Regions from separate parts of the Homo sapiens genome. Here region 1 is linked to region 2. A link means that fine-mapping ties the variant in region 2 to the plasma level of a protein whose gene starts in the linked region. Region 2 holds a variant in brackets. A gene starts in the other region. All regions are shown on their reverse strands. Region 1 holds the start of KLKB1 (kallikrein B1). Region 2 overlaps KNG1 (kininogen 1).

What was found. PIP is the posterior inclusion probability: the model's chance that the variant is causal. Protein levels are from antibody-based Olink assays in UK Biobank. Linkage for the fine-mapping came from a reference panel and not from the study's own genotypes, which makes the PIPs less certain.
Region 1: KLKB1 starts here. The variant in region 2 is fine-mapped to the plasma level of the KLKB1 protein (UK Biobank, PIP above 0.99).

Annotation. Positions count from the first base shown.
Region 1 is chr4:186,225,852-186,228,772 of GRCh38, reverse strand. KLKB1 (kallikrein B1) reads right to left here and starts at 1,266. Exons shown (of 15, transcript NM_000892.5): 1 at 1,186-1,266; 2 at 520-578. The coding sequence starts at 577. RefSeq lists an enhancer at 2,089-2,759.
Region 2 is chr3:186,742,313-186,745,233 of GRCh38, reverse strand. It overlaps KNG1 (kininogen 1), which reads right to left. Exons shown (of 10, transcript NM_001102416.3): 10 at 824-2,921. The coding sequence ends at 2,903. Among named protein-coding and RNA genes, the nearest start is that of KNG1, 26 kb to the right of the region's middle. The variant G/A (reference allele first, on the strand shown) is at 1,499.

The DNA.
Region 1 (2,921 bases), not on the chromosome of region 2:
CACCTAGAACTATCCAAATGCATGGTTTGCTAAGTTAAATTTAAACCAGTTACTTTCATTTTTGAAATGGTTCCCTAGCGGTCCAGAGTAAAACTATGTATGGTGTTCCTAACAGATACTTGGATTGGACCCAGACACTATAAAATGCCTAGCACTCTTTTGAATTTTCAGATAAAGTTTAATTTTTTACTGTTGATAATAAAAATAGAGGACTAATTTTTTTTTGTTTCAAGTTTTGCTTTGCAGAGTGTCATCTGCGAACAGAAGTTTTTGTTAACACAAGTCCCAAGACATTCCTACTTCTGAGCTCCTTCCTCTGGTCTGCAACATATGTCTACAGCAATATACCTGACAAGTGGTCCTTGTTGTGGAACATTAAATAGACACGTGTCCTGAATCATCAGGGACAATCTCCACCCCCGAAGCTGTATGTTCAATAGCTTTCTCCAGGGGTGGTGCCACTTGCTTGGCTACTCCTGTCTTAGCCTGAATTCCATGTTTTATAGATAATTCACTTACCACAGGAAACTGTAGCAAACAAGGAAATGAAATAAGTTGCTTGCTTGAATAAAATCATTCTAAAAAAGAAAACAATACATAACTCTGCTGGTTTTAGACCACATTTAACATAAATCTTAATTTAAGGTGATTTAGATTTTCTTGTAAATGTCTGAATTGCAAGACAAAGCACACAATTACTGGTATAGAAAACAAGGGTTTTTTTTTGGTACATTTGTGTCTAGGGAGTTGGAAAATTTATAATGCTTCCCAAGATACAAATTGAGACCTCCAGACTACTGTTGTGTTTATTGTTCATTGGCCAACTCTGTGGCTAGTAATGTTGGAAAGGGAATTGGTAGAGAGAGAGTAAACAATTATGAAACCTCTTGATTTGGGCAAAAACAAAATTAATAAATAATGGCAATAATGTCAGTCCAAAAATCCCTAAGTAAAGAAAACCTCTGAAAATATTAAAGCCCATTTAAAAATTTTAAATCAATCAAATATTCTTTCTGATTTAAAATCATCTTACATTTAAATATTTCTACATAAAGGAACATTATCTATACTCTCTACATACTCAGGAAATTAGAATATAAATGATTAATTTTCTCATAAAGTAAAAAATTATACTTAAAAATTATAGTTTATTTGGAAACAATCAGAATAATAAAAATTTGCTACCTGAAAACACAATTGCTTCTTGGAGGTGAGTCTCTTGTCACTTAAAAATGAACGGTCTTCAAGCTGTTCTAATGTGGCACTGCAGGCAATATTTTGCTTGGCTTCAATATTGACTTTGGGTTTCTGCCAACAGTTTCAACTTTTTGTCCTGTCAACATATTCCATGAACATCCTATCCGTGTTCAGCTGTTAAGTATATTAACTATTTCAGGGAGTGATGTCAGCAAGAATAGGAATAGGAGTTTGTCAGAACAGGAGTTTCTAGCGCTCATCCCTTGCAGAAACATCAATTCGAACAAGTATCCATGCACGAAAATAACTTCACTAGAGCTAAGGAATCAGGTGAGAGGTTATGCCACCTGGTTGCAGCACAGAAATAAGAAAAGACACATAGAAGTGTATAGGAAGGACAATTTCACATTACCGGTGTCATCTCACCTTCAAGCCTGGGCAGCACAGTATGGAGAGAGATGCCCTCTTGCATGGAGGAGGGACAGTTAAGATAGAACCTAACTTCACCACAGATCCCAAGCACCAAGCCCACTCCAGTAAACCCCAGCACCAGGATTCAGGCCTGCCACAGGCCAGACCAGCCTCTGTGGCCTCAGCCCCATGCTCACCCCAGACCAGGTCAGCCCCTGGGGCTTCAGGCTCCAAGATGGCCACACAAAACCTAGACTTCAGGCCTGCTCCAGCTCTAGCCTGGCCCCCAAGACTCTATCTAGCCTCCACGTTAGCCCCAGCAACCCCAGGCTCCAAGTTGGCACCCATGGGCCTAGAATCCAGGCCATCCCCTGCAGATCCAGCACCAGGTCAGCCTCCAGAGATCTTGGCTCCATGCTGGGCCATGTGGACCCAGATGCTGGGCTCACCCCAGTGGACCTTGTTCCCAGGACAGCCTGAATAAACTCAGGAACAGGCCTATCCCCATGAACTCAGGTGCCAGGTGATCCCCATGTTAGGCTGGCCCCTGCAGACGCAGGCTTAAGGCTCATTTCAGTGCCAAGTCAGCCCCCAAGGATCCATGCTTCAAGCCAGTCCTTGTGCACAGAATACAGACAACCACAGTGAATGAACCCAGAATCCAGCCCTTCCCACCTTAGAACTCCAGCAGAAATCCTGTGCATAGACCCCAACAGACAGCCCACCAACAATCTCTGGTCAATCTGACTAGTGAATGGCTTTCTCTGCTGAAGCTAGTATGTAAAGACTGAAATAGGTGCCTACTTCAGTGCAAGGCCACACTGATCACAAATAATCGGGGAAACAAGAAACCACCAAAGGAAGGAAATAAAGCAGCAGGAGGTGACCCTAAAGAAATGGAGATCTTTACTGCATGACAAGAGCTAAAAATAATTGCCTTAAGAAAGCTCAATAAGCTACAAAACAATATAGATAGACAGTAAACAAAATCAGGAAAACAATACATGAGCAAAATTAGAAGTTCAACAAAAAGATAGATAGGAACCATAAAAAAGAATGAAACAGAAATTCTGGAGCTAAAGAACAAAATGACTGAATTGAAAAAATTCACAAACAGCTTCAGCAGCAGACTAGATCAAGCAGGAGAAAGAATCAGCATGCTCAGATACAGGTCATTTGAAATTACCCAGTCAGAGTAATAAAAGGAATGATAAAAATTGCAGAAAGCTGACAAGACTTATAGGACACTGTTAAGAAAATTAATATGCATTAGAAGAGTTCCAGAAGAAGTAGAGAAAGAGAAAGTTGCAGAA
Region 2 (2,921 bases):
GTCTTTTAAAATTTCTTTCTTTTCCTCTCAGGACCTCATGCGAAGCATATGGTAAATAGTTAGTGACTGCTGCTTAACTCAGTTTATCCTGACCAATACACAGAACAGCACCAGCCACAATTAGGTATTTAATAAGGATATTTTGGATTGAGACAAGGATCCTCTCAGAGTCAGACATTGTCTTGGCATGCCTTTTTTTTTTTTTAATTTATTGGGTCTCTGTGACTGTAGTCAGTGACTTGGTGTGTCTTTTGTAATGACAACATTAATAATAAAGCCTTCAGATGACATGGTGTAATGGAGTTCAAAAGGTCTAAGTCTGAATGCCAGCCCTGCCACTTATTAACTATATGACCCTGGGCAGGGCACTGTGAACTACAGTTTCCTTGTAAAAGAATGATGTTCATGGGGGCCTTAGAGTGGTTGTGAGGATTAAGTTATATGCCAAAAGTAAATTATCTAGCATAGCAAATGGCTGTAATAGGTGTTCGATAAATGTTTTTTTTCTTTTGAGACTGAATTTCATTTTGTCACCCAGCCTGGAATGCAGTGGTGCAATCTCAGCTCACTGCAACCTCCACCTCTCAGGCTCAAGTGATTCTCCTGCCTCAGCCTCTGGAGTAGCTGGGATTACAGGTGCGTGCCACCACGCCCGGCTAATTTTGTATTTTTATTAGACATGGAGTTTCGCCATGTGGCCAGGCTGGTCTCGAACTCCTGACGCCAGGTCATCCACCCACCTCGGCCTCCCAAAGTGCTGGGATTACAGGCGTGAGCCACCATGCCCAACCCAATAAGTGTTTTTATTACAGAAAATTTAAAATCTCCGTCACTTTTTACTTTATTGATTTTCAATTTGCTTCTTTACCTGGATCAGAAAGATAATTTCAAATTGTTTGGAGGTTGAGTATTTTCTGATAGTGAGAAGTTGGTAGACATTCTATTAACAGAGATGATTTTAAAAATATTTTTGGTAATTAACTGGACCATAAGAAAACAATACTAAACAAGCCAAATTACTCTTAGCTAAGGCTTGGAAATCTGGAGAAAGAGGAAGAAGAGAAGGAGAGAGTCCTTAGATTACTGGTAGAAGCATGACCTACTAACTCTTCTTTTAGCACCCGTGGTGGTAAGGAAGTCCCGCCTAAGGACTTCTGCCTTGGCTAGGGAATGTTCCAGTGTTGGGTTATGAGCCTCCATGGCAGAGCCACAGCACTGACTCTCTGACCAGCTGGAATTTGCTGCAGAATGGGTAGGGCTGAAAGGAGACCACTGTGAATTAGAGTTAGAACATCAAGACTGATCTTTATTTCACCCAGAGGCAGAGTGATAAAATGGCATTCTTCTCTATTTAAATTCTATCCCATCTTTCTTCTTGTCCTTCCTCTCAAGGTTGCTGGCAGAGGTGGTTGGGGCTATGTGCCTGGAGTGAAGATTCTGCCCATTGGTCAAGAGACCTCCCTCTCAGATGCTGGCTCTGCCCCTGCCTTTGGGGGTC[G/A]ACCCTTGTACTCGCAGGACCTTAGGTGACTCTGTAAGTATAGTAAAACGCAGTTAATATGATGTTATCATTCAATCATTTTTAAAAAGTGGAGCAACCAGTTGACAAGGTAAGACTTTTTCCTGACATCTGTGGTTGTTTATTTAAAAGAACAGACAATATTTAAAATGAAAGACAAACTCAGAGGTTCAAATGCATCCAATAACTTGAAGCAGCAGTGACATATACATCCAAAGATGATTGTAGCTATTTAAAGCCATATCTTGTTTTTCTAGGCAAAAGTACAACATTGGTTATAAAGCATATACCTTCTTTGCACTATAGGGCAATGAAAGGCAATCCTATTATTCTGCTTCTCAAAAATCAATGGTCTTCAAAGTCATAGCAAAAAGACTATAAAGTGAGACTAGAGAGTAATTTCCTCATAAAATTTCGGAACAAACTTTGCATCACATTCCATAATATTCCCTTGTCAATTATTTAAAAAGTTTTATTAGCAAGCCTGCTTCTATATTGCTCCCTCTGCTTTTCATCCTTATCATTAAGCTCGGAGCTTCTGTAAACTAAGAATTACTCAATCTAGGCTCAGCAAAAATAAACAGAATACTTCTATATGAAAGCCTGTTGCAAAGAGTAGTTAATGAGTAAACAGAAATTTTTGACTTATGAGAAACACTCTCACTCAGAAAGGGCAGTGGGAGTATTTATTTGATATAACTAGCCCATTTTGGGAATAGAAAGTCAATTAATTTATGTCCCCCCTTTCCTCCCTTTGGCCAACCTGTCTTCTTTCTTGTTACTTTGAAATCTGGAAGTTTTTCTTATTATTTCTTTTTTTTTCTTTTTTTCTGAGACAGAATCTTGCTCTGATGCCCAGGCTGGAGCGCAGTGGCACGATCTCGGCTCACTGCAACCTCCGCCTCCCGGGTTCAAGCAATTCTCCAGCCTCAGCCTCCTTATTATTTCTATTCCATTAATAAGTTCAGCATTTAATCTCTTGACTTCCCTTATTTTCACACACATTCAAATACCAAGTGCCACAGTTTATTAAGAATGACAAGAATCTTTGTATGCAAATTCATGACATATGTTGTAAGGTACATATTTGTTATCAGAGAAGCCAATTGCAGCAGGCCATACGGCACATTAGTTTGTCTGTTTACTGTGCTAGTTTAGAAAACTTGGGAAGAAGATTCAGAAAAGAGTTAGAATTGTGGCACACAATTTTATGCAGTCCGTGGAGACTGATGGTGTCTCCACTGGGAGTCTCACCACTTCTCTTTAGACTGTTCCGAAGCTGCATGGTTTTTGGTGCATTATATCAGGATATTTTCATCTGGACAATGGAGAGAGGGATATTGATACTTTAATAAAGTATGAAAGAAATACCCATAGCCACTTAAATTAAGAAAGGCCATCAGTG